Linked DNA regions of Homo sapiens. The protein of the gene in region 3 purifies or fractionates together with the protein of the main gene of each other region. This does not show direct contact. Each region holds a gene or a part of one and is shown on either strand. Other genes may lie near its edges.

Region 1 (7,270 bases), on a different chromosome or scaffold from region 3:
TGCATAGTACTTTATAATCCGCAAAGAATGTATGTCCATTAAAGCAAAGATAAACCAAAAAATAGACTACCAAAGGTACACACTAGAAGTCAGCAAACCTTTTTGAGGTGATCAAAGACAACGCCACTAAAAGGGTCACAGATATAAAGTGATCTATCATTCTCCTTTATCTTCAATGCCTCTTCTTCTGTAATAATCTGAAGATATTCTTCTGATTGGAATTCTTTTATGGACTGAAAGAAAAAATAAAATAAGAATGTACCTGAAATTACTCTCCTGTATTTAGGTCCTATTCAAATTCCATCTCAAATCCAGCCTTTTCCCTATTGAAAGCCACCATCACATCTCACTTAGACCTCTGCAGAAGGCTCCCAAGTGGTCTCTTTTTCCCTTCCTTGCCCTAAATCTGTTCTCTACACAGCAGCTAATAATCTTTTCAAAAACACAAGTCAGATCATGTCACTATCTGCTCAAAACCTAATGTCTTCACACCACACCCAGAATAAAATCCACATTTCTTACTACAGCCTTCAAGACAACACAGTCTGGTTTCCTGCCTATCTTTCCACCTTTACCTCCTACTTCTCATCTCTCTTGCTTATTCTATTCCAGCCACTCCCGCTTTCTTGCCAACCCTGGAACAAGCCAACCATAACCTCATTTAGAGGCTCTGCTCTTGATCTTGCAGCACAGAATACTTTTTTTCCAGGTTTTCACCTGACTTAATCCCCCACTTCAATCAGGTCTGCTTAAATGTCACCTCCCCAGAGATGCCCATCCTAATCAGGCTTTCTCAAATACCCTTCCTCTACCCTTCTAGTCTATTCTATTTAAAAATACGTATTTATATATATATATATAGTTTTTGTCTCTCTCCCCTGGAAGTTTCTATGTATCTTGTTTGCTACTATATCCTGACACCCAGTAAGCACTCAGAAATGTTCTGAACCAATTTTGAGGTCCTTATGTTAAATACAGTAATCCCTTTAAAACTGTAAGTCAGATCATGTTTACTCTTCTGATTATCAACCCTCCAATGGCTCTCCACTGAGAGAAAAATGGCCCACAAGGCCCTACATGACCTCTTTACCATTATTCTCTAACGCATTCCTTAGTACTCTTCCCCCATCCCTCACTCACTACACAACAGTACACTAAACTTGGATAGAGACTACAGGCACTTTCCCAGGGGCTGTATAAGGTTGCTCTCTCTGCCTGCAACATTCTTCTCCAGATATCTGCAAGGCTATCTCACCTCCTTCACGTTTACTCAATATCTTTTTCTTCATAAAGCCTACCCTGATCACACCCTATTTAAGATTATAACCCCCTTCTCTTCCCACCCCAAGAAACATCCTCTGGAACCCCTTAACGTGTTTTGCTTTTTTCTCTTCCTAATTTATCATGTCTGATTAGTGTCTATGTCCTCCTGCTAGAATGTAAGCTCTGAAAGAACAGAAATCTTTGCCTGTTCTCATCACTGATAAATCCCAAGTACTAGAGAAGTGCCTATCAAATCATGAACACTTCAATAAATACTTGCTGAATGAATGAAGTTTAAAAAAATCTGCTACAAATGCTTCTCAAACTTTAATGCACACTGAAGATCTTGTTAGAAATGCAGATTCTAAGTCTGGGTTGGAGGCCAAGATTCTGCATTTCGAAGAAACTTCCAGGCCATGCTGATACTGCTGGGTTCTGTGAGAAGCAAGGATCTACATCACCCCTACTATCATCCAATTATTATACTGTACATAATAAAACATAATTTTTAACAATTAACCAAAAAATTTTCAAGTATGACCAGTACACAACTGACTCAAATTTCTACAGCACGCAAAGGACCACTCTGGCTAGGAGACAAATGAAAGCAACTTAATTTCCAAGAACTGTAGGTCAGCCATATTAAACAGCAATGTGATAATAGACTTCCAGCCCCCCGAAATACATAATGATGTACTTAGATCAATTCAAAAATATGTGATAATGATATATCTGTATTAATGTAGACTATAAAATTATTATGAAAGTGAAATATCTACTTCTAAGACATAAAGCCCAACAAATCAAAAACACTTAAAAACAAGAAAATGAATTCACGGTATTAAGATGTTTTCAACTCTTACCTCGAGAGCTTTAAAAAAACATTTGGAATTGTCTGAAGACTTTAAAAACTTCACAAAAAACGGTTCTTTGTCATTTCTGGACATTTCTGAACTGTCAAAATAAAGGAACCATTAACAAGAACAAAACCACATTAGATAAAAAGTTGCATGTTTAACCTACCTATTTTTCTGTGCAGACAAGAATGCCTAAAGACAGACATTCTGGCTCTGCCCGTGAATTCGTCAACGGCATTTCTAAGAAATCCTGGAACTTGGACAAAGCCAAGGTAAAAGATGACAACACCAATCCTTGCAAATCAGACAGCAAAATTAACCCGAATTGAATACACTGAGGAAGGCCCTGCTATGAAGGCTCTAAGCCCTTTAGGCCAATGGACATTCAATTGCACTTGTTTTAAGGATACACAGAGTGTATCTGTCCCTGCGGATACCCACGGCCTGCGAGGTACGTTCATCCCTCAGTAAACAGATTTTAAATATAAACATGGAAGCCAGTTAGCATGGTCTTGGCCCTGCATAAGGCTAGATGCTCCGGTTCCCATCTCCAGGAAAAGGCCTGGCTCTGGGATCACGGAAGCCACGTCCTCTCGGCGTCAAAGGCCCACCCGCCGGCTCCAGGGCCAGTTACCAGGACAGGAAAAGAGGGTCCTGAAGGCCACAGAAGGCATCGCGAACCCCAGTTGGGGCTGGGGAGGAGCTGTGTCCCCACTCCGCGCCTCACTTACCTCGTTGGAGCCTCGGGGTCTCCGGGCGGCGAGTCGGGGGACGCGCTGGCCGCAGGGCGGTGGCTGGGGTCGGGCGCCAGCCCGGCGCACAGCCCCCTCCCCCGACTCGGCGCCGCCCCTACCCCAAAGCAAACGCTGGAGAACCCGGAAATTGCCCAGAACGGGAACCGACTTTCGCGCCAACCGCGCGGCCGCGCTTGCCTTTTCCGGTGGAAGTGACGCCATCGGCAGCTGCAGCAGAAGAGCGGAAATGTCAAACGTGGAGGTGAGCAGTCTGTGGGCGGTGGGGCTTCAGGGAAAGCTTGGGCCGGACCCTTTGGGTTTAGGGCTTTGCTGGGCGGGCCTAGTCTCCGCTGCGAGTAGGCCCAGCGCCGTCGGTTCAAGAGGTAGGACCACAGGCCAGGAATACTCCTTTACTGTTAAAAAAGCCAGGGAAAGAAAGGATTTCCTCAATAGATATTTATTTTACACCTGTCTTATACCAGGCATGCACGGGAAAAGGTATTATCCAAAACAATTCCGTGAGGCAAATAGTGGTAGTTCCATTTTGTAGATGTAAAAACGGAGGAAGTTAAATGATGGGTTCAAGGGCACACGGCTAGTAGGTGGTAGAATTAATACTGCATCCAGGTCTTCTGACTACGGACTGGGTGGTTTCCCTCCAACACAGCAGGAATAGAATCACCGCCTAACACAGCCACAAGATGGCAAGGGAAGAAAGGATGACTTATTACACAGCTAATGCAAAGGGATCTTTGTCAAGATCTTCAATGGTCTCCCCTCCTCCTCCCCTTCAGTGGACATCGCCGTTCTCTTTCTCTGCATCTGCCTCAGTACTGGGGAGATTCTGGGACTGAACCTAAGATTCAGATGGCAGAGAGCAAAGGGAGAGGGGATAAGATGGGCCTGCAAACCTTAGTGATAACCAGCGGAAAACTGATTCGTTGTTGCTTCTTTTCATTTTATTCTTTTTTAAAAAAATTTTTTCTTATTTTATAAAATCTAGCCACTATACTAATGAGGATCATTTTATTATTCACTGCTGAGATTGAGAAAATGACTTTGGATTTACTAATGTAAAAGTATAATGCCATGTCCCTTGATTGTTTTTGTTTTTCTTTTCTTTTTAGAGCCTAAAGATAGTAATGAGCAGCTTGAGTCTTAAGTTTTTGAATACACCGATGGAAGGTGACAAAGATTCTTTGCTTGGCCAAACTTTAGTCAGACTCCTCAACCTTCTCGTAGGTTTATCTGTGCATTTCCTTGGAAAATCCAGTTAGAACCCTCTACCCTCAATATCTGATCAGGTTCCTCATCCTCTACCATCCAAGGTGATGTCTGATCACCTTGACCTATTTTCAGCAAGAAACCCCTTTACTCCTGAAGTTCCTTCTTAGTAATTTTTTATCCAGTGACCCCAAGCTTTTTGTTCCTTGGCTATAAATTCCCACTTGCCCATGGTGTATTTAGAGTTGAGCCCACTCTCTCTCTCCTAATTCAGAATCCCATTGCCATGGTTGCTATACCTATCCTGATGGTCCGGAATAAAATCTGTCTTACTGTGCTTTAATAAATATCATTAATTTTTTTTTTTTTTTTTTTTTACCAGAAATGAGTCAGAATCAATTAACACTGGGGCTCAAAGGTAAAGGCCTATTGCTGGGGGAAGGGTGAAGAAAGCCTTAAAAGCAAAAAAACAAAAATCACTAGAGGTGGGAAAAAAAAGAAACCACAGTTAATTGTTAAGGTGCAAATCTGACCTGAATCTGTAATAACAATTAATATTTCTAGGGCACTTTACAGTTAACATGGGACTCCTGCTCACACTATTCCCGTTTACTCTTTTCAGCAACCCTATAATAGATGGGTATCATTGTCTCATGTTATGGAGATGGGGAAAGTGAAGTTCAGGGACTGTGTCACTTGCCCGTGCCTTTCCTGACACACCACACTGCTCCTGGGCACGTGCTGTCTGCCCATCTCTGTGTGAAGTTCCACACCGGGGAGGGAGCCCATTCCTGGCATTTCTGGGCCAAGTAGAGACCTCACAAGAGAAGGAGATTCATAGATGCTGCTAATGAAGATGAAGAAAATGCACCCTTTAGCTTTTACCCAGCCGGAACTTGATACCAGAGGAGTGACCTGTCTTTAGAGTAAGAGTTCACCACTAGGGGGCAAGTTCTCCCATCTTGTGTCTCCAGATAAGCAGAGAGGGTCTGTCTCTAGTATCTACTCCTGGAAAATGGATAAAGCAGTGGTTCTGATGTGTAGTGTCTGGACCAGCAGCATCGGCATCTCCTGGGAATTTTGGGGGAATGAAAATTCTTGGGCTCCACTTCAGACTTATTAAGTCAGGAGCACTTGGGGTAGGGCTAGCAATCTGTGCCCTTCAGGTGATTTTGGTACACATTAAAGTTTGCTTGAACAGCAGTCCTTCAGGAAAGGGTGAAATGGTTAGTATCCACGGAGGATTGATTCCAAGGCCCCCTACAGATAACAAAATCTGAAGATGCTCAAGTACCTTATATATAACCTGTGCACATACTCCCATGTACTTTTTTTTTCTTTTTTTTGAGACGGAGTCTCACTGTTGTCCAGGTTGGAGTGCAGTTGGCACAATGTCTGCTCACTGCAACCTCCACCCCCGGGGTTCAAGCGATTCTCCTGCCTCAGCCTCCCAAGTAGCTGGGGTTACAGGCGTCTGCCATCGCACCCGGCTAATTTTTGCATTTTTAGTGGAGACGGGTTTCACCTTGTTGGCCAGGCTGGTCTTTAACTCCTGACCTCGTGATCCACCTGACTCAGCCTCCCAAAGTGCTGGGATTACAGGCATAAGTCACTGCGCCTGGCCACTCCCATGTACTTTAAATAATCACTAGGTTACTTATAATACCTGATGCTATGTAAATACTATGTAAACGTTTGTTATACTGTATTTTTAAATTTTGTTTTTTTATTGTTGTATTTTTTCTACTATGGCAAATTTTACATAAAAATTGTATTTTTTTTCTGAATATTTTTGATCCCCGGTTGGTTGACCTCCTCAGATGTGGAACCCACAGATACAAGGAACTAACTGTATATGGGTTTGTGGTCCCTGAAGACTTTGGTGAAAACAGGGAAAGGTTATGATATGCCCTCGGAAGCTGAGGTTTCGGTGCTTACTTTGGCAGCATGTTTACTGAAAAAAAAATGGAATGATACAGAGATAAGCATTGCCCATGTGCAAGGATGACATGCAAATTTGTGAAGCATTCCATATTTGCCGGTCGTGGTGACTCTCGCCTGTAATTCTAGTACTTTAGGAGGCCCAGGCTGGAGGATCACTTGAGGCTGAGAGTTCGAGACCAGCCTAGGCAACGTAGCAAGAACCCCCATCTCTAATATTTACAAACTTTTTTAAAAAAGAAGCTGGGGACCGGGTGCTATGGCTCACATCTGTAATCCTAGTACTTTGGAAGGCCAAGGTGGGCAGATTGCTTGAGCCCCAGACTTTGAGACCAACCTGGGCAACATGGTGAAACCTCATCTCTACAAAAAATACAAAAATGAGCTGAACGTGGTGGCGGGCATCTGTAGTCTCAGCTACTCAGGAGGCTGAGGTGGGAGGATCACCTGAGCCTAGGAGGTCAAGGCTGTGGTGAGTCATGATCATGCCACTGCATTCCAGCCTGGGATAACAGAGTGAGACCCTATCTCAAAAAAAAAAAAAAGAAAAAAGAAAAAGAAAAAAAAATGTAGTTGGGGTAGGGAATTAACTTTTCCCTCACTTTCCTGGCATTTAGGATCAGTTTCCTGTTTCTCTGGCACTTCTGTCACCTAGAGCCAGTCTCTCCAGACCCTGCTTGGGGTGACATTATGGGCAACTTTATCTGTTTATAGAATGGAAAAGGAGGCCGGGAGTGGTGGCTCATGCCTGTAATCCCAGCACTTTGGGAGGCCGAGGTGGGCAGATCATCTGAGATCGGGAGTTCGAGACCAGCCTGACCAACATGAAGAAACCCATCTCTACTAAAAATAAAAAAAATTAGCCAGGCATGGTGGCAGGCGCCTGTACTCGGGAGGATGAGATAGGAGAATTGCTTGAACCCAGGAGGCGGAGGTTGTGGTGAGCCGAGATTGCACCATTGCACTCCAGCCTGGGCAAAAAGAGCGAAACTCCATCTCAAAAAAAAAAAAAAAAAAAGAACGGGAAAGAAAACACAGGAAACAAATATGACAAAATAGTTACTTTTACAATGTGGGTGGTGGGAATATGAATATTTATTATTATATTTTACTACATAGATAATATTTCTCAAAATTAAAGCCAAACTAAAAATAGGTTTTTTGAGTTATAGAGTTTTATGTTTGTTTCCAATGCTGTAAATGAATAAATACGTATAAATAAATGAATGTACAATTTGCTTTGGTTTTTGT
Region 2 (7,024 bases), on a different chromosome or scaffold from region 3:
AACTTTATATGGCAAAAGGCATCTTGCAGATGAAATTAAGGGTTTGAGATGGAGAGGGAGATTATCGTGGATTATCTAGGTGGGCTTTAGATGTAATCACAAGAGCCCTTATAAGAGGGAGGCAAGAAAATCAAAGGCTGAAGGAGGAGATGGGAAGACTGAGCAGATGCTGGAGTGATGTGCCTCGAAGATGGAGTAAGGGGCCATGAGCCACAGAATGCAGGCAGCCTCTGGTACTGGAAAAGGCAAGGAAATTGATTTTCTCCTATGGTCTCGAGGAGGAACCAGCCCTGCCAACAACTTGAAGTTAGTCCAGTGAAAGTGATTTTGGAATTCAGTTCAATGCAACTGTAAAATAATACACTCATGTTGTTTTAAACCAAATTTGTGGTGATTTGTTACAATGGACCCAGGAAACAAATTTAGATAAGCAAGGGCTTTCCTGGGTGAAATAAGGAGAGGGGCCAAGAAGCAGCTTCAGATATATAGAGATGCAACTACTAGAGATCCTGGCCCCTAACAAGAAAAAGCTCTTGCCACTGCCAGAGATGGGGAAAGACTGTTGCAGAAAAAGGAGAAGGGGTAAAAAGTTAGGGTATGAGTGAGCACATAGCCTCCTCCTACTGTCCTGTCGGTTCTTTCCTTCCCAGTGAATATCTGACCCGTTGCATTGCTGATAACGACCAGGAATTCCACCAGTGGCTCCCTCTTTTGCCCTCACTGAAGAAATCAGTCAACTGCTCATTGAAGTACATTCCTTTGGGCTGGGAATCTTTTTGTTCACGCCCACTTGCCCTAGCAGCTGAGATGGTAGGAAATCTGCCAGGCCCTCCACCCCAAACCAGGCAGCAGAAACAAGCCCACTCACCGCCAGCTGGTTCTGGAGCTGTTTGACTTGCTGCTGCAGCGCCTCCAGCTGCTGACTCTGCCTTTTGGATGAGCTTGTTGAGTAGGAGAGCTGGGAGAGGCTGTTCAAGGCCTCCTTCAATTTGGTGACTTCCTTCGACATCTCATTTATCTAGGGGCAAAGGAAAATGGTATTAGCAGACAGTAACATGTCTACAAAGCAAAATTTCATATATTTGTAAGCCTCAAACATAGTCATCTCTTTTGGCCTCTGGGACTTAAGACTTTGGAACAATTCCTTTTTAATACATTTAAATTAAAAAACTCATAAAATGAAATGGATGACAAAATCAGGCAAACTAACAAAGCCCGCTACATCCATTAGGTTCAGATAAAGGCCCTTGAATTACATATTATGTTTTGGTGATGGCGGTAACAAAAGCTGTGATGTTGGTTTCCTACTTTTACTCTTAAAATGGGTATGATTGAAAAAAAAAATCAGAATTAGGATTTCCGCTTTTATTTGGAGACAGCTATATTTTGTCCAATACTGCTGACATGGGTGATCAGGAATAAGGTCTAGGAAGCCTGATATCTCTGGACGTCTTTCTTTAAAGTAAACACAACTAACTCCTCACCGTACCCCACCACTCCCTAATCCCTGTTCCCCTGGATGATAAAGCTCTTTTGAAACACTCATTACAAAAGAATAAAGACAAGTAGTCTCTCATGAATGCTATTCGGAACCTCCGAGACAGGGGACTAGAGATGCAGAGCCGATTGAGGCGTGGAACCATCCCCCTGAACTTCCCCTTTGCTTCCCTCCTTCCTCCAGCAGCACGGCCAGCACCATCTCTTGTGTCCAGCGCCATCTCAAATTGCCGGCTCCCCACATTCCTCCCCCTTCCTCTCCTATATACCTGTCAAAGGAGGGACCGGCGAGGGTAGCTTTTACAGTGACTTGAGGGGAAGCTCATGGACCTTAGGGAAACAGGATTAAGTCTAGGAGTATTTTAGTTTCATATTATGGAGGAATCTGTTCTGAATCCAAAAAAAGAACCTGAAGTTTGAGGTGGATCACAAATACTTTCCAGTTTGCAGGTTCACTTCTGATCCCCAATACTGGCAAAGCTTCTGTAAAATGATTTTTAAAGGACAGATATATGAAAATGCTTTAGTATAAGGAGAAGTGGCCGAAGATTGATGTTTGCTTATTGATTATTTTTTGAGGCAGGGTCTCACTCTGTTGCCCAGGCTAGAATGCAGTGGTGTTGATATGGCTCATGACAGTCTTGACTTGTAGGGCTCTAGTGATTTTCCTGCCTTAGCCTCTCAAGTGGCTGGGACTACATGCTCATACCACCATGCCTGGCTAATTTTTAAATTTTTTGTACAGATGGGGTCTCACTATATTGCTGAGGCTGGTCTCAAGCCATCCTCCCATCATGGCCTCCCAAACTGCTGGAATTAGAGGAGTGAGCCACTATGCCCAGCAGATGTGTTTTTAAAATACAAATACCCAATAAACTATTCTTTTTTTTTTTTTTTTTTTTTTGAGATGAAGTCTGTTCACTCTGTTGCCCAGGCTGGAGTGCAGTGGCCTGATCTTGGCTCACTGCAACCTCCACCTCCTGGGTTCAAGCCATTCTCCTGCCTCAGCCTCCCTTGTAGCTGGGATTACAGGCGTGTGCCACCACGCCCAGCTAATTTTTGTATTTTTAGTAGAGACGTGGTTTCACCATGTTGGCCAGGCTGGTCTTGAACTCCTGACCTCAAGTGATCCACCCACCTCGGCCTCCCAAAGTGCTGGGATTATAAGCGTGAGCCACCACGTCCGGCCGACCCAACAAACTATTCTTAATGTGGCTTTGGTGACAGATAAAGTTCATGTGCAGAGCCTCTGAGCATTCACTCCAGTTTAGTGCCAACACTAGAAATATTTAATATAGTAAAAGCCAAAGAGACTAAGACTTATTGCTAGAAACCCAACAGCAATACAGTTTCACCAACCTTTTTATCTTTATCTTCCTCCAGTTTTGAAGAGCTCTCAGCGTATCTTTTCATTTCTGCAAGTTCTTCCTGAGCTTGCTGGAATTTTTGCAGAAGTTCATTTACTTCTTGCTCTTTGGATTTCAAGAGAGTCTGAATATTTTCCTTTTCTCTTTTCACCTGTGAGACCTCACTTCTAATCTGGACAACCTCTGAATGGACCTTCTCTTTCTCTTTCACAGATTCCTTTAATTTCGATGCCAACACACTCACTTCACTCTCTAAGGATGACTGGAGTTTTTCATAGGAAGACCGAGGTACCATTGCATCAGTCATAGCAGCTTTCTCTTCTAAGAGTTGTTTCTCCAGCTTTGCTACTTCCACTTCCTTGCTTGCAAGGTGTTCCTTAAGATTGCTTATTTTTTCTTCCATCTCTTTTGCTGCAGTCCGCAGCGTGGTTATCACTTGCAAATGTTCTGTGATAGAGACAGAGTTCTCTTTTTGTGCATCCACCAGTTGTTTGAGCTGGGTCAACTCATTCAACACTTTTGAATACTGAGACTTCATTTCAGACAGTGCATCTTCTGCTTTAGCCCTGGACACGTTTGTCAATTGCATCAGTTTCTCATGCTCTGCTTTATGGATATATTCAGCTGTGACATCCTCTAGAGATTTCCTCTTCCTGTAATCCTCCAGCTCAGCCTGGGCTTCTTTGTACAGCTGTGACAGCTCGCTCACCTGTTTATTGAGTTCATCTATCATCCTATTCATGGCTTCTTTCATGTCCTCAGCTTCATCACTGGCTTCCTGTGTCATCTGACTTTTTAGTGTGTCTTTTAATTTCATGATTTCTTCTTGGGCTTCTTGGTATTTCTCAAACAAAAATGCTTTCTCCTTATTCATATTCTCAATAACAGAGCAATATGAACTTTTCATTTCCTCGTACTCTTCCACAGGTGGCTTAATCACTGTACCTTTCTCCCTCTCTACCAGTTTTTCCTCTAACTCTCTCACTTTCTCTTTATTTCTTTCACTTTCTTCTAATGCATTCTGCAGATCCTGCTTTAGCACATTTATTTCCTCTTCCGTGACCCTCAGCTCGTGGAAATGTGAATAATTATCCATGCTTTCAGGTGAGACAAGACCGAGTTTCATCTGCTTCTGCACACTAAGGACTTCTTTCATAGCCTCCTCGTATTTGCTCTGAGTTTCTTTAAGTTTCTGGCTGAGGTCAGAGCTGTTCTCTGAAATCTCAGTGTTGTTTAAGCATACCAGTTCTGCCCTTCGGGATTGGAGTTCGACCTGTAGCTGTTTTCTCTCTGCTTCAGAGCTCTCTAATCTCTTCTGTAGATCTTGCAAAATCTCTTGCAGTTGCTGAATTCTGACATCATTGTCAGTAGTGGATTTACCTAAAGAATGTATTAAGACAGATGGAGATGATTTGGAGTCTGGGGGAGAGGTTTCACCAGGTTTTCCCAGGGATGGGCCCAAGTCAGTTTGGGTGGAATGGTATGAGTCAAAGCTTAGGTCTGCTTCCGCCTCCTTGGGTGATTTGGCCTAGGAAAAAAAAGCAAGAATTAAATGATATCAAAGGTCAGGAGATTGAGACCATCCTGGCTAACACGGTGAAACCCCGTCTCTACTAAAAAAAAATACAAAAAATTAGCCGGGCGTGGTGGCGGGCGCCTGTGATCCCAGCTACTCGGGAGGCTGAGGCAAGAGAATGGCGTGAACCCGGGAGGCGGAGCTTGCAGTGAGCCGAGATCGCGCCACTGCACTCCAGCCTGGGCGACAGAGCAAGACTCCGTCTCAAAAAAAAAAAAAAAAAAAAAAAAAAAAAAAAAAAAAGATACCAAAGGCGTGGTTAGCTAAGCAAGCAACTAGAATGAGAGGAGTAAATCCGCAACTTTGGTACGGGAGAGTAGCATGATCACTTTGCCTGTGTATTCTCATGCCATGAAAAAAGACAGTCTGGGACATGAGTGGGACTAATGACACAAAGCTTGCTTTGGGTTCTATTGGGACAGACGATTTGTGTCACTTTGAAAACACTAAAATTGTTTTCTCTACAAAGCCTCCAATTCAAAAATTTCCTTTATTTCTTATATCATTCTACTTGCCAAGAGGGGTAATGGATATATAGTACAGCTATTTCTTCTTCTTATTTTTTGGTACAGCCATTTCTTATCAAGTACTTAAACCTGTTAAATGATCAACTTTACTAAATGGATAATATTTTATATATATATATATATATATATACATACACACATACATATATAATTTAAAACGTAAAATTTTAATATATATAAAATCAAAATATAAAATTATATATTATGCATCATTCTATGCATATAGTATATTTTATATAGAATTTTTTCTATAAATTTTGTTTTATTTATATAATTTATTAAACATATAGAATATTTAATACTGATCATACTATGTGTATAATTATTTATAATTTACCAGTTGAATAATTTACAGAAAGAGTTAATGAATAACACTCTCATGAAACAAATAATCTGAAACTATAAGATGCTTAAAGCTAATATTTAAAAAGAAACTAATGTACACATTTAAAACAAAATACATCTGACTACTGAAAAGACCAAGAGCTTGACTCTACAGAATAGTCCATGATAGCAATCTATTTATATACCTGTAATTTATCTTGTAACTCCTTATTGTGTAAGGTAAGGGAAGCAACTTTTGCTTGCAATAGAGAGAGAAGATCTTGTTGGTCAGCTTCAGAACTTATATCCAATAAGCTATCAGCACCTTGGGAAAGAGAAAGCCATTTAAAATATAAAACAATTAAACTCTTATTTCTCTAACCTGAGACAAATTCACTTCCTAGCCTAATCCAGTTCTTCTTCCTGGCCCTAATTATAAAACGCCCTAGCAGCTGGATGGGTGAACTAAAATTTTCATTTTATATAGAAAGGAAACTGGGGTTTCCTTACTGTGGTATTGCTAGCACAATACTAGATACATGTGTACACAAGGCAATCTGAAAATTGATGAATTTGGTCATATATTTCCTATTCATTTGCTTAAGTGTCATATCTTGGTTGTTTTTGGTTCTTCCCTGTGCCTTGTAAGTCTCAGTTATGTGAATCATTTTAGAAATGTCTCTGGAATCTGGTTTATTTCTTTCCCCCTACCACCATTACTGTAGTTAAGACTTTATCACCTTACTTGGAAACTCTGCAAACAGCTTCCCAACAAATCTCTGCCTCTCTCTTCTTCCCAGTGAAACTGTAGCCTGCACAGCAACGTCAGACCAGTCTTCCTAAAACATACTTTGATTGGGTCATTCCTCTGGGTCAAGTGCTTTAATTGTTTTCCCTCCAAAAATAATCTCCAAATTCCTTTATCTGGGTTCAGGCCTCTATGATTTGGCTCCAGTCTACTTCTTCAGGTTCATGACACTGCTACTTTTCTAGATTCCTATTTTCCTCAGATTCATGGTTCCCATCACACCCTCTACATTCTCAACACACGGCTGATTCTTTCATTCTTTATCCACAGGATTGCCCTGCAGAATCTCTCTGCCTAGAGAATTCTTAAGCATCATGTCAAACTTTGCCCAGTCCTTAAAGCATTCAAAGACCACCCTAGCATGAAACTATCTTCTCTTCTCTGAATCCCACAGTAATCCCTGTTGGTAAACCACAACTTTCGGACATCCTACTGATTATCATGCTGAAATTGCAACTTAAGGAGTGCTATTCAAGGTGCTCACAGAGATAGCAAACTTCCTCCAGAATGCAATGCAATGTACTGCTTCCTTCATCTAGAAAGTCCTACAAAAGATATGTCAGCTGAACAAAACAATGTGCTTAGTGAAGTAACTGTGTGAATTTCTGGTCCAAACTTAATATTATTATTACTTTTTGAGATGGAGTCTTGCTCTGTCACCCAAGCTGGAGTGCAGTGGCACGATCTCGGCTCACTGCAACCTCTGCCTCCCAGATTCAAGCAATTCTCCTGCGTCAGCTTCCCAAGTAGCTGGGACTACAGGCATGCTCAATAATTAACTATTACATAAAATCTCAATAATTTTATGTAATAGCTAATTTTTGTATTTTTAGTAGAGACGGGGTTTTGCCACATTGGCCAGGCTGGTCTCGAACTCCTGACCTCAGGTGATCTGCCCACCTCGGCCTCCCAAAGTGCTGGGATT
Region 3 (7,024 bases):
TGCTGAGGGCTTATTCTAGCCAATGTCATGGCTTCTGGGGCTGCTCAGTGGACTTAGGGATTGTCTTCAGGGGCCCCAGAGTTAGAGTGAGTGTCCAGAGGATGCCTGACCTTTGTTCTGACCCTGAGATGATTTCTCTCATGTCTGGGTTGTGGCTGGGAGACTGGTGCCAAATCCTACCTTGTGCTTACAGGTATACCTTGTTAGTGGGCAAACCACCTTTTGAGACTTCTTGCCTAAAAGAGACCTACCTCCGGATCAAGAAGAATGAATACAGTATTCCCAAGGTGACTAATGATGCTTTAAGTTTACATTTATTTTGTTTTCCCCAGAAGCTGTTTATGGAGCCCAGCAATATCCTAGGACCAGAAATAGGTCTATCCCACCTCTAAGGTAGCCACAGAGCTTGAGAGGGCCTGTGTCTGAAATTGCATACAGAACTTGACATGTATGTGCACATAAGCATTTTTTCTAGGGGGAGAGAGTTGGCAGATTCTCAAGAGATTGGGTAACCCAAAAGTTGTGTAAAAAGCAAAAAACAAAGGAGGTAGGAAGGAGTAGGAGGCAAAAGTGCTTAATCTTTAGAAATGGTTTATCTTAATTCAAATGGATTCTGCCACTTAGCGAGATCACATTGGGCAAATGGCCTGCATCTTTTTTTTTTTTTTTTTTATTTGAGGTGGAGTTTTGCTCTTGTTGCCCAGTGCAGTGGCATGATCTTGACTCACTGCAACCTCCACCTCCCAGGTTCAAGCGATTCTCCTGCCTCAGCCTCCCAAGTAGCTGGGATTACAGGCACCCACCACCTCGCCTGGCTTTTTTTTTTTTTTTTTGTATTTTTAGTAGAGACGGGGTTTCACCATGTTGGCCAGGCTGGTCTCGAACTCCTGACCTCAGGTGATCCACCCGCCTTGGCCTCCCAAAGTGCTGGGATTACAGGCGTGAGCCACCATACCCAGCCTGGCCTGCATCTTCTGAACCATAGTTTCCATATATAAAGTGGAGTTCCTGCCTTGGAGCACCTCACAGAGTGCCTTGCATGTGGTGAGTGCTCTCAGAATTATGAATCACTGTGAATCCCAGGGCTTCCTAATGGCATAGTTGTGTGCATTTTCTTTTTTTTTTTTTTTTTTTTTTTGAGATGGAGTCTCGCTCTGTCGCCCAGGCTGGAATGCAGTGGTACAATCTCGGCTCACTGCAAGCTCTGCCTCCCAGGTTCATGGCATTCTCCCGCCTCAGCCTCCTGAGTAGCTGGAACTACAGGCACCAGCCACCATGCCCGGCTTCTTTTTTCTGTATTTGTGGTAGAGACAGGGTTTGACCGTGTTAGCCAGGATGGTCTCGATCTCCTGACCTTGTGATCCACCTGCTTCGGACTCCCTAAGTGCTGAGATTACAGGCGTGAGCCACCGCGCCCGGCCATGGTGTGCATTTTCACAACCACCAACAGAAATACATTTAAAGGAATAGCTGGTTCCTGCAGAAGCCTAGCACACAGCCAGTTTGAAGTGTAGTGTCCTTGTGTGAAGCCAGGAGGCCTGTCACCATAAGGACAGACATAGTAAATCCATCACAAAGTGTCAGTTCACTGTCAGAGACAGCATGGAATCAAGCCAGCTAGACAAGGCCTTCACCCTCTCTGTGCCTCACTTTCCTCCTCTGTGAAAAAGGGATGATAATAGATCCCCACCCCTTAGATGAGTTGGTGAGGGCTAAGTGAGCTAAACACAGGAGTGCTTAGAATGCTTTCCTGGCACATAGTGAGTGCTAGGAAAGTGAGTTGGTGTTCGGCCACAGTCCATTGACCCTTCTGTCAATGGTGCTCAGTAAAGCTGACAGTGGAGAACTTGGCATTGAACCAAGTTGTGAACCACTGACCTGTGGTGTATTTGAGACTGGGGGCTGCATGTGGGCTGGGGACCTGCAGCTCCTTTGAGGCCGTACTGTACTCCAGGTCCCCTTCACATTCTGCTTATGGCTGTCCCTCTCTCTGCCCCAGCACATCAACCCCGTGGCCGCCTCCCTCATCCAGAAGATGCTTCAGACAGATCCCACTGCCCGCCCAACCATTAACGAGCTGCTTAATGACGAGTTCTTTACTTCTGGCTATATCCCTGCCCGTCTCCCCATCACCTGCCTGACCATTCCACCAAGGTTTTCGATTGCTCCCAGCAGCCTGGACCCCAGCAACCGGAAGCCCCTCACAGTCCTCAATAAAGGTACAACAAGGGTCTGGGTAAGAGAGCAGACCCCCCAGAGAAAGCCCAGGTTGTAGGGGTGTGTGCAGCTTAGTCCCTGGCCCTGAGAGCTCAGGTGTGGAGTAGGACAGGCCTCTGTCCTTCAATCCGTGGTTCCAATGCCCATCTGCTTCTCGGCCCTGCCAGGAAAGACTGACCTTACCATGGCTGGATAAACGTACCATGCCCAAGAAGAAGAAAATGGATTGAATGCCAAGCCTGAAAAATTCTTTCAAATCACTTTAATTAATTTAATTTTTTGGAGACAGGGTCTCTCCTCTATTTTCCAGGTTGGAGTGCAGAGGCACAATCACAGCTCACTGCAGCTTTCAACTCTAGGGCTCAATTGATCCTCCCATCTCAGCCTCCCAAGTAGCTGGGACTGTCAGGCATGCACCACCATGCCTGGCTGACTTTTCTAATTTTTGTAGAGACAGTGTTTTGCCATGTTGCCCAGGCTGGTCTTGGAACTCCTGGGCTCAAGCGATCCTTTCACCTCCACCAAAGTGTTGGGATGACAGGCATGAGCTGCTACATCTGGCCTTTAAAAAAATTTCTAACACTTTTTCATGATTCATTGAAAAACATAAAAATTTCCTTTTTTTTGTGGCGTGATCCCGGCTCACTGCAAGCTCTGCCTCCCGGGTTCACGCCGTTCTCCTGCCTCAGCCTCCTGAGTAGCTGGGACTACAGGCGCCCACCACCATGCCCGGCTGTTTTTTTGTATCTTTTAGTAGAGACGGGGTTTCACTGTGTTAGCCAGGATGGTCTCAATCTCCTGACCTCGTGATCCGCCTGCCTCGGCCTCCCAAAGGGCTGAGATTACAGGCGTGAACCACCAGGCCCGGCCTTTTTTTTTTTTTTTTTTTTTTTTTTTTTTTTTTTTTTTTTTGAGACAGGGTCTGGCTCTGTCTCCTAGGCTGGAGGGGAGTGGTATGATCTCGATTTCACTAAGGATACATAGTTTTAAAAAGTCACTTGAAATACTTTTTTTCTCTGTGGATATATCACCAATTTGATGTACAACTTCAGTTCATTTTTCAGTTTTCAATTTTTAGGTATTGGTTTTTCTTAAACTTCATTTTGGAATAATTTTAGGCTTATACAGAAAAGTTGCAACAACAACAAAAAACTCCCCAGAGTTCCTACATACCTTGCAGCAATTATTACAGTGGAATTTTTTTTGAGACAGGTCTCAGGACTTGCTGTCACCCAGGCTGGAATGCAGTGGCTCACTCATAGCTTACTGCAGCCCCAACATCCTGGGCTCAAACAGTCCCCCTGCCTTACCCTCCAGAGTAGCTAGGACTACAGGCATGTGCCACCATACCCAGCTAATTAAAAAATTTTTTTCTTTGGGAGGCCGAGGTGGGTGGATTGCCCGAGCTCAGGAGTTCGAGATCAGCCTGGGCAACATGGCGAAACGCTGTCTCTACTAAAAATACAAAAGACTAGCCGGGCGTGGTGGTGTGCACCTGTAATCTCAGCTACTCGGGACACTGAGGCACAAGAATCACTTGAACCTGGAAGGCGGAGGTTGCAGTGAGCCGAGGTCTCACCACTGCACTCCAGCCTGGGCAACAGAGCGAGACTCTGTCTCAAAAAAAAAAAAAAATTTTTTTTTTGTAAAGACAAGATCTCACTATGTCGACCAGGCTTATCTCAAACTCCTGCCCTCAAGTGATCCTCCTCGGCCTCCCAAAGTGTTAGGATTTACAGGTGTGAGCCACTGTGCCCTGCCTAGAATGATGTTCTAATGGTAATTTTTCTTTTCCTCACTTTTTTTGCATTTAATAATTGGAATTCTTCTGTAAGGAAGAGCTGTTCCTTCTCTCCGATTGATTTATTTATTTGGTTATGTCTGAAATAGACTCATGGATATTTTTATTCTTTGGGCTATATTTTAAAGGATTACTTATTTCTCTGCTTTTATTTATTTTTTTAAATTTGAGACAGGGTCTTGCTCTGTCTCCCGGGCTGGAGTGCAGTGGCACAGTCGTACCTCACAGTAGCTTTGATCTCCTGGGCTCAAGTGATCCTCCAGCCTCAGCCTCCCAAGTAGTTGAGACTTTAGGCATGTGCCACCGCGTCTGACCAATTTTTAAATTTTTGGTAGAGATGAGGTCTTGCCCACACTGGTCTCAAACTCCTGAGCTCAAGTGATCCTCCTGCCTCAGACTCCTACTTTTTTTCTTTCAGTTTTAATTTTTTATATAGCATTTTAAAAACTTAAGGAAATTTTCAGTTACCCGAAGGTGGAGAGAACTGTATGATGAGTCCCATGTTTCATCTATTTTTACTAGTTATCAACATTTGGACAGACTGTTTTATTTATTCCAGCCTCCTGCCTTTTTTGTTACCGGTGTTTTAAAAAATTATTATTTACTATTTATTATTATTTATTTGAGACATTCTTGCTTTGTTGCCCAGGCTGGAGTGCTGTGGCAAGATCATGGCTCACTGCAGCCTCCACCTCCTGCGTTCAAGTGACTCTCCCACCTCAGCCTCCCAAGTAGCTAGGACTACAGGTGTGCCACCATGTCCAGCTAGTTTCTGTATTTTTAGTAAAGACAGGGTTTTGCCATGTTGCTCAGGCTGGTCTCAAACTCCTGAGCTCAAACAATCTACCTGCCTCGGTCTCTCATAGTGTTGGGATTACAAGTGTGAGCCACTGGGCCTGGCCTTGCTGGAGTGTTTAAAGCAAATCCCTAATATCTTATTATTTCATACCCAAGTCCCTATCATGACATCGTTTTTTAATTGAAAACTTAAACATTTTATATTATACAAGGAGAATTAGCACATGGTGGTGGGGGAATAAATAAATAAGGAAAAAGACAATAAGAATAATCTGTGTTTCTACTGCCCAGATATAATCAGCGTTAAAATTTCATGTTATCTTTTCAAGCTTTTTTGGTTATAAATAAGCATATAAAGCAAATTTTGGGGTGGAAAAAAATTTCTTGTGTTTTTATTTAAATGCCTACTGAATCCATTCTGTGGATGAACTGAACTACTCAGCCCTTCCATCTGCCTGGATGCTGAAGATGCTTTCCATTCTTTGCTCAAAGCTGGGCAGCTCTGAGCTGCTGGTGCCTTCAAGCTGTTTGCCTGAGTGGCAGGTCATCCTGCAGGGCCACACCGTTGGGTCAGAGGCCACGGCTTCTGAAGATCTGTTGCCTCACAGTGAGCACTATGTGCCTGTCACCTGAGCATGGCAGCTGCTGCTCTAGTAACCAGGCACTGATTCAGTTTCCCCAAAGCAGTGGTAGCTAAGAGAATTTTTCTTTCGGAAGAGTTTCAGCTGTGGCAGGGGAGTCCCGTGCCCTTCCCAACGCCCCTGTTTTTGTCACCTTCCTAGGCTTGGAGAACCCCCTGCCTGAGCGTCCCCGGGAAAAAGAAGAACCAGTGGTTCGAGAGACAGGTGAGGTGGTCGACTGCCACCTCAGTGACATGCTGCAGCAGCTGCACAGTGTCAATGCCTCCAAGCCCTCGGAGCGTGGGCTGGTCAGGCAAGGTGGGTACTGCGGGGCCCTGGGCGGGGCAGGATTGCTTGGGGCATCTGGAAAAGGCAGGAGGAGGCTTGGCCAACAAAGCACTGGTGACTTGTTCAGGCCCTGTCTGCATAGGACCATTGGTTTCCCCATTTCCTGATATCCAAGGCCCTGCTTCCGTGGCTCCTGCCGCCTTTTCTGATCCGTCTTTTTTACTCTAGCACCTCGATGTGCCACCTTCATACGCTGTTTCTTTTGCTCAGTAAGTTCCTATTGTATCTTCAAGACCCTTGAAATAACAGACCCAGATGTACTGCAGCCTCAGGGCTTTCTCCCTGGTCCTGGCACGAAAGCACTTCTTCCAGACACCACATGGCTCACACTGTGGCCTCCTTCAAGTGTCTGCTCCAGTGTCAGCTCTGTGAGCATCTCCCTGGCCCCTCTGCTGGTGCTTCTCATCCTCTTGCCCACTGCATAGTTCTCCATAACACTTCTCACCCAACATAGTCCAACATGTCCTTCTTTGTTTATTGGATTTAAATTAAGGGGTTTGTTGCATGCACTGAACGTAACATTTTGATGTGTTTGCAACTGGCTTCTGTCTTCACAGTTTCTTAATTACTCCAAACTGGAAAACTAGATGCCTCTGACTCTTACCATGATAGAAGTCACTGATATTTTGCCCATACTTAAATTGATTAGTCTTTGCCCCTACAACCACAGTGTAAGCTCCGTGGAGGCTGGGGTTTTGTCTGTTGCTCACTGAACCTGCAACAGTGCCTGGCACGGTAGGCCTTCAGTAAATGGGTCAGTGGAATGAAGGAGTGAGTGGAACTTGGTGCGCTGTGCTGAGACTTTCTCTGCAGAGATATCTGTGCTGCTGCTTGTCTGAGCCTGCTGGCAGCAGAGGCCCTGCTTTGCTCTTCTCTGGGGCCCTAGGCCTCTCAACTGAGCCCAGGTGGGGTGCCCAGCAGGCTTCCCTGTTCCCTGGTGTGGGCCACATGTGTGGAGCAGAGGGGAAGAGGCTGGTCCTGACCAACTAACTGTCTGTCTGTTTCTGTCTCAGAGGAGGCTGAGGATCCTGCCTGCATCCCCATCTTCTGGGTCAGCAAGTGGGTGGACTATTCGGACAAGTACGGCCTTGGTAGGTTTCTTCCAGAACAGGTGGGTGACTCAGGCACAGCCAGGTGACCTTTTCAGTTGTTACAGACTCTGGCCTTTTTGAGCTCCCAGGTACTGTTCTCAGTGCCCTCCTCTCTCCATCCCAGGCCTCCCAGTTCCAGCTCCCAGTGC
Region 4 (6,700 bases), on a different chromosome or scaffold from region 3:
GGCCCAGCATGAGAAAATGCTCTGTGACACCTGGTGTATCGAGGTGAGACTCGGGGCTGCCAAGCTCAGGTGAGGGCTGGAGGTGCAGGCCCAACCCCTCCTTCCCTCTCCCCAGGCTGCAGCTCGGATCCGAGAGGGCATGGCCGCCCTGCAGTCTGACCCCTGGCAGCAAGAGCTCTACCGCAACTTCAAAAGCATCTCCAAGGCCTTGGTGGAGCGGGGTGGTGTGGTCACCAGCAACCCACTTGGCTTCTGAATACTCCCGGCCAGGGCCTGTCCCAGTTATGTGCCTTCCCTCAAGCCAAAGCCGAAGCCCCTTTCCTTAAGGCCCTGGTTTGTCCCGAAGGGGCCTAGTGTTCCCAGCACTGTGCCTGCTCTCAAGAGCACTTACTGCCTCGCAAATAATAAAAATTTCTAGCCAGTCATGCTTTGCTCCTGTGTGACGGTTCTTTCCCCCTGCTGCCTGCCTCCCTCCCAAAGAAAGGAGCCAGAGGCGTGGGGAGTTTGCCTCTATTGCTTTATTTGGTGTTTTATACAAGTGACTAAAATAAATAGAGTAACAAAGGCAGCTACATGGCCCAAATCTCCCAGCTTCCTCAGGCTGCTGTCTAGGATGCCTAACCCCGGGGTACCGCTGACCACCCCCAACCCTGCAAAGGGCAGGGCTGTGGGTAACTGGAGGAGGAGGTCACATTCTGGGGTTAGAAGGGGCCCAATGGATGGGAATTCTTCATATAAAAGAGGAAATGCCTATTAAAAAAGTCCCAAAAATGTAAGAAACTCTATTTTAACCCCCAAAAAGGCTTATAAAAAAACAAAGCTAAAAATAATCAAAGGTCCCTTGTCTACCCCTGAGGGAAGGGGGAGGAACCAGGCACTGCTGGTGAGAGTCACAGTGGCCACAATCTCCTGTATGGCAGCAGCTGGTAGGCTGAGCCCAGGCACTGTAAGAGCAAGCACATGACGGCCAGGACACCCAGTCACACACCAGGAGCGCCCGGCCCAGCCTGGCCCCACAGTGGGCTACATAACATCCACAAAGAACTCGCTGGGATTGCCCATGGCCATGTGGAAGCTTTGGCGGCTGGCTGTCAGTTCTGGGGGCACAGAGCCCAGGTCTCTGACTGGAGGGGCCCCCGGAGGCTGCACTGCTGGAGGGACTGGAGGTGGAGGTGGGGGCATCATGACCACCATCATGGGGTTGTAGGGGAGGGCCATGCCAGGGGGCGGTCCATAGGGATGGAGCCCTGGGTGGGCTCGGAGATTAGGGGCACCCCCAGTTGAGCCTCTGGATGGAGGAGGGCCCCCATCGCTAGTCCCACTTGCTTCCCCACCCCGCCGAAGGCTGCCCCCTCGGCTGGAGGGCTCAGACTCACTGCCACTGCCGGACTTGGACTCGGGGGCCCGCTCCTCGGGCCTCCCCGTGCGCCCTGCCCCCCCATCACTCCGTGTCGACCCACTGCTCCGGCTGCCTGTGGAGGGAGGGGAGGGGCAACTGAGTCCTCACCCAGGCTCCTCCCTGGCTCCCCTCTCATCCACCCTCAGATCCTGGCCGTACAGGTATGTGGGGATGACTTACCCTCACTATGCTGGCTGCTGGCACTGCCCCCACCATAGGTGTAAGATGAAAGCTCATGGTAGGGTGGAGGCTGCGGGCTGTAGGGGTGTGGGGCAGGGTATTGGTAGGAGAAAGTGGGCAGCAGGGGCCAGGGGGTGGCCCCAGGCAGAGGAGCCAGGGTATCCTGGTCTGAAGCCCCACTGGAGCCATCGTTGTCATTGAGAGACAGGTTGACTAGGTCTGGAAAGCAAGGGAAGAGAGGAAGAAATCACTGCTTCAAGAGGCTAGGGCCCCAAGACACCGAATGGAGAGGAACTGGGAACAGTTCTCCCAGACCCACCCACGATGGGGCTCAAAACAGGGGTTCACAAGGGTCTCTGACAAGAAACTCCCATCTACTTCTGCCATGAGGGCAGGGGCACAGCCACTAGCCCACGTCTTTGCGGGACTCAGGTAAGAGGTGCACCTTCCCCCGGTGGACACAGTCCTGCACCTGGCACATGGCTTGTCCAGCAGCACATGGGTGGACGTCAGCCCCCATCCTCGGCCAGTGCAGGACCTAGTGCGGGACACACACTGCTCGACCATCCATGGTGGCCCTGGCTGCGGTTTCTGGGCTAGGTCTAGGGTTGGAGAGGCAGAACAAGGTAGGCAAAGCCACACTCCCAGAGTTGGGGCAGGGGGACTTACAGCTCTCACAGCCACCACTGAGGTCTCCGAAGACGTAATAGCACTGCTCAGAGAAGGTGATCTTGTTGACGGTGTGTCGGATCAGGCCTGCTTTGAGCAGCCCGCTGGCATACTTGCGGGCCTCCCGCCGCTCAGGAAAGCCCTCCACGTGATGGTAGAGCCAGTCAACCACATCCGAGCCTGGGAGCACCCACAGTGGAAAAAGGCCTCAGGTTCTTCTTCCAACTCCTGCTCTCGCCTCTGCCTGTGCCATTCCTGGCTTTGGTCACCACCTCCTCCCCTTCTCCAGCCACCTGCCCAGGACCCAGCCATACCCAGAAAGGCATTAGGGATGGTGATCTTGAGCCACATGCGGTCCCGGACTTCCAGTCCAGACTCTGGAGCTGCCATGGCCTTGGTCACCGATGCCATGTCCGTATGGACGGAGAGACCCCGGCCTTCACAGCCTGGCAGAGGAGACAACGGGTAACCAGAGTCAGGGATCGCTCCCACAAGGGCAATGGATCAGACCACTGCGGGACAGCCTTCTGCTGGGAGGGTGGGATGAGGTGGGCTGGCGGCTCACCATCAGGCAAAGACGATCCAGATGTAATGGTGCTCATGGAGGAGGAACCTGGATAGGCTGGGAAGGTGCCAGTCAGAGCCGCGGAATGGGACACCCAGGCAGCAGGGTCAATTGGCTGGATGGGCTCATCTGGGACAAAGATGGCACCAAAATGACCCATTCTCAGTCCCCAAAAGCCAGCCCAGTCCCTCCCTGACTCAGCCTCCTGTTCCACCTCTGCCTGGACCCTCCTCCCACCCATTCCCCATGACCACAGGCCCGGCCCCAGCCTCCTGGGCAGCCCCCACCCCCAACTTCAGGCCCCTCCCTGAGTGTCACTCACTTCGGGGGAGAGTGAAATAGGCCTGAGGAGAGGGATCCCAGCACTTGGCCACAGTCAGCACAATGGGGCTATGGGGAAGAGAAGTCCAGTCAAGGGCGCAGGGGAAGAGGAGGCCTCAGGAGGGCGGGGGTCTGAAGCAAGGATGGATTAAGAGACACAAAGAGGGGGAGAAGCAAGCACATCGCGGCTGGGCTAGAGAAGGTGAGGGTGGAAGGCACCACAATGTGGATGACTCATCAACATGGAAAACTCTTAAAAACATACTGCCAAGTGAGACAAGAGAGTACACGCTGTACAGTTCCATTCACAGAAAGTCCAAAAACAGGTAAAACGAAACTGCAGTGTTCAAGGATACGTGCAAGGGTGGTAACTATCCAGTGAGGCAAAGCTTTTCTTTGTTATGGTGATGGCCAAAGAAGTCAGGAGAGTGACTACCCCTGGGGCAGTGAGGCATTTGGGAGCAGGAAGGGACATCTGAGGAGGAAGTTCTAGGGTATCAGCAATCTCCTATTTGATGATCTAGATGGCAGTGACATGGATATTTACTCTAGTATTATTTGCTATGTCATGCATTTGTTTCATGTACTTTGAACGTTATGTCTTAGCACTTTTTTTTTTTTTTGAGACGGAGTCTTGCTCTGTCGCCCAGGCTGGAGTGCAGTGGCGTGATCTCGTTTCACTGCAACCTCCACCCCCCAGGGTTCAAGTGATTCTCCTGTCTCAGCCACCTCACTAGCTGGGACTACAGGCATGTGCCACCATGCCCACTTAATTTTTCTATTTTTAGTAGAGACACGGTTTCACCACATTGGTCAGGCTGGTCTCGAACTCCTCACCTCAGGTGATCCACCCATCTGGGCCTCCCAAAGTGCTGGGTTTACAGGCTCGAGCCACCACGCCCGGCTGTCTTAGTACTTATTAAAATTCCAAAACAAAACATGAAAGAGAAAAAAAAAGAGGACTGAGGACCGGCAACCTGCTTGGCAACTCACCCAGGCTTGTGCACAATGTCCCTCAGCACCCGCACAGCGTCATCGTTGCTCATGTTCTCAAAGTTCATGTCATTCACCTGGAAGCGACGGCAAGTGGGTCAGAGACACGGTGGGAGAGGCTGAGGGCCCCCGTGCAGGGCAGCTCAGTGGCCCTACCCCAGCACACCTGCAAAAGCATGTCCCCTGGCTCAATGCGCCCGTCGGCCGCCACAGCCCCACCCTTCATGATGGAGCCAATGTAGATGCCTCCGTCTCCCCGCTCATTGCTCTGGCCAACAATGGAGATACCCAGGAAGTTGTACTTCTCTGTGGAGAGAGGCCATGTGAAAAGAGGAGCCCCTGCCACAGGACGCCCGGAACCCTAGAGACCAGGCCCTCCCCACGCCCTAGCCACAGGCTCTCCCCATACCCATGTTTAGCGTGACTGTGATGATATTGAGAGACATTGTGGAATCTGTGACGCTGCTGAAGGATGACGTCTGTGGTGGGAAAAGGAGCCAGAGTGCCCTTCAATAACCCAGGGTCAACCCTGGGGTGCTGCCGGTGTCCTGGCACCGCCCAAACCAAAGCCCATGCCCCACCTTCTCCCAGCACCAGCCTTCCTGTAGGAACCCCTCACCCTCTCCAGGCGGGGTGGCCTCTGCTTCCTTCGCCGCCGGTGGCGCTTAAGGAGGCGGGAGGCACTGCTCTGCTCCGTGGAGCTGCTGAACCTACCAGGAGGTTGGGAAGGAGAGCAAACGTAGGCCAAAGTGGTCATGGGGCCAAGAGAAAGAACAAGAGGATTGACTGGAAGACGAGACGGGGCTGGGTGCGCTGGGGAGAGCTGTGCGGAGCCACACCTGCTCATGGTGTCCTCCTCGTCCGAGTCCCCCAGGCTGGTACTCTCCAGCTCGCTGGTCATGAGGGTAGAGGAGCTCTCGTATCCGGCCAGGTGGCGCTCCAGCCTTGAGGGGCCACCAGTCCTGTGGCCCCCAGCTACATATGGACAGGAAGCTCAAGAACCAAGCTTCCCCCTGCTCACCCCACCAAGGCTGGGGTCTGGCCCAGCCCTTCCCGGCCCCCAGGCCTGCCCCTCACCGCCATGCTCACTGCTGTCTCTCCTGCGAGGCCGCTCCCGCCTCAGTGACACTACTGACTCGGTTTCTGTCTCAGGCTCCAGATTCTCATGGCTGCTGGACACATTAGGGCTGGACAGGCAGAGATGGTTTCCAACCCACATCAGGAGAACAGGGCTCCGGATCCTAGGCGTCCCCTACCAAAGGCCTGGGTTCCCTCCTCACCTCCCTCCCCTGCAGTCAAGAATCTGAAGGACTCACTGGAAGGATGGAGGCCTTGAGTCCCCAATGCCGCTGGTCCTCTCGGGTGGCAAAGGAGGTAAAGGTGGGGCTGGAGGCGCCAGTTCTGCCCGAGGCTCATGGACTGGAGGGGCCATCTCGGGTTGGGGATTATCTGAGGACACCAGCTAGAAGGGTGCAAATGATAAACAGTGGCTCACTTGGGAGTCAGGGTGTGACAGGTGGCAGTAAGTGAAAGAATGAGAAAGGGTCTCAGAGAGCTGGAGAAGAGCAAAAAAACCTAGCAAGTATTAGAGACTCCAGAAGGAGAAGGCTGAGGGCCTCTCGCCGGCTCTCCAAACAGACAGGAGGTAAAGAGCCAGGGCTGCTAACGCGCGGCCTGGGGAGGATACAGAAACAGACTGAGGCTTGAGGGAGCTTGGCAATGCTGAGGGGGCCTGGTCCTCGGTGTCAGAACCTCTTACCCAGGATACCACCCTTCCGTTGAAGCAGGGGAGGCGGGCGTTGTCATCTGAAATTTCTTCCTTCACCACCCTGCCAAGCGACAAGGTAGAGGTCAGTGAGCTGGACCAACCATCCCCACCCCGACCCCCATCAAACTTTCTCCCAATCTTCACCTGGCTCCAGGATGTTGACTTTCTCCTGCCCTGTTCAGGTCTTCTCTTACATTGAAAGAACTCACTCCGACACCTAAGAAATCTCCAAACTCAATCCCCTTTCCTTATTTCTCCTCTCCCTAACGCACCCTCAGGGGCACAGTGCTGCTCCAAAGACTTCCTTGAGTCTGACTCAAACCTCTTAGTCCAGTTTCAAAAGCAATCCCGCACGCTGATGCGGCTGCCTGAGATACCTATCTAATGAGACTGGCTGGTGGCCTCCTCTCAACCCCACCCCTGTTCCTTACAAACCTTCCAAAAAGGTCAGGCACGGTGGCTCACACCTGTAATCCCAGCACTTTGGGAGGCTGAGGCGGGCGGATCACCTGAGGTCAGGAGTTCAAGACCAGCCTGGCCAGCATGGTGAAACCCCATCTCTACTAAAATACAAAAATTAGCCGGGCATGATGGTGGGTGTCTATAATCCCAGCTACTCAGGAGGCTGAGATGGGAGAGTCGCTTGAACCCGGGAGACAGTGGTTGCAGTAAGTCGAGATCGCGCCACTGCATTCCAGCCTGGGCGGCTCAAAAAAAAAAAAAAAAAAAACCTTCCAAAAAAGGCTTTGGTCCTCATCAAAGCCTCTACTCTTATACTTTCCTTTAGTTTTCTCTAATTCATTTC

The links.
Region 1: the proteins of PLK1 (region 3) and TOPBP1 purify together in Homo sapiens (affinity purification with mass spectrometry; 5 studies listed by BioGRID and IntAct, with this or other methods). This does not show direct contact.
Region 2: the proteins of PLK1 (region 3) and RAI14 purify together in Homo sapiens (affinity purification with mass spectrometry; 6 studies listed by BioGRID and IntAct, with this or other methods). This does not show direct contact.
Region 4: the proteins of PLK1 (region 3) and DVL2 purify together in Homo sapiens (affinity purification with mass spectrometry; 6 studies listed by BioGRID and IntAct, with this or other methods). This does not show direct contact.

What each region holds. Positions count from the first base shown.
Region 1 is NC_000003.12:133,658,918-133,666,187, forward strand, and holds the start of TOPBP1 (DNA topoisomerase 2-binding protein 1), read right to left. Parts: upstream 2,596-7,270; intron 2,430-2,595; coding exon of another isoform or gene 2,309-2,429; intron 2,218-2,308; 5' UTR 2,211-2,217; coding exon 2,127-2,210; intron 234-2,126; coding exon 99-233; intron 1-98. Other genes in the region: uncharacterized protein LOC124909487, read left to right, coding at 2,309-2,429, 2,596-3,116, 3,982-4,131. UniProt on the Homo sapiens protein: Scaffold protein that acts as a key protein-protein adapter in DNA replication and DNA repair. Composed of multiple BRCT domains, which specifically recognize and bind phosphorylated proteins, bringing proteins together into functional combinations.
Region 2 is NC_000005.10:34,820,324-34,827,347, reverse strand, and holds part of RAI14 (ankycorbin), read right to left. Parts: intron 5,617-7,024; coding exon 5,498-5,616; intron 4,393-5,497; coding exon 2,857-4,392; intron 1,019-2,856; coding exon 869-1,018; intron 1-868. UniProt on the Homo sapiens protein: Plays a role in actin regulation at the ectoplasmic specialization, a type of cell junction specific to testis. Important for establishment of sperm polarity and normal spermatid adhesion.
Region 3 is NC_000016.10:23,681,871-23,688,894, forward strand, and holds part of PLK1 (serine/threonine-protein kinase PLK1), read left to right. Parts: intron 1-193; coding exon 194-287; intron 288-1,999; coding exon 2,000-2,219; intron 2,220-5,598; coding exon 5,599-5,754; intron 5,755-6,797; coding exon 6,798-6,875; intron 6,876-7,024. UniProt on the Homo sapiens protein: Serine/threonine-protein kinase that performs several important functions throughout M phase of the cell cycle, including the regulation of centrosome maturation and spindle assembly, the removal of cohesins from chromosome arms, the inactivation of anaphase-promoting complex/cyclosome (APC/C) inhibitors, and the regulation of mitotic exit and cytokinesis.
Region 4 is NC_000017.11:7,224,842-7,231,541, forward strand, and holds the end of DVL2 (segment polarity protein dishevelled homolog DVL-2), read right to left. Parts: intron 6,354-6,700; exon of another isoform or gene 6,040-6,353; intron 5,957-6,039; coding exon 5,887-5,956; intron 5,590-5,886; coding exon 5,444-5,589; intron 5,315-5,443; coding exon 5,205-5,314; intron 5,103-5,204; coding exon 4,967-5,102; intron 4,838-4,966; coding exon 4,747-4,837; exon of another isoform or gene 4,709-4,746; intron 4,607-4,708; coding exon 4,537-4,606; intron 4,434-4,536; coding exon 4,294-4,433; intron 4,205-4,293; coding exon 4,128-4,204; intron 3,204-4,127; coding exon 3,136-3,203; intron 2,943-3,135; coding exon 2,814-2,942; intron 2,695-2,813; coding exon 2,563-2,694; intron 2,429-2,562; coding exon 2,249-2,428; intron 2,118-2,248; coding exon of another isoform or gene 2,089-2,117; exon of another isoform or gene 2,046-2,088; intron 1,799-2,045; coding exon 1,580-1,798; intron 1,473-1,579; coding exon 1,024-1,472; 3' UTR 501-1,023; downstream 1-500. Other genes in the region: ACADVL (very long-chain specific acyl-CoA dehydrogenase, mitochondrial), read left to right, coding at 1-43, 116-256.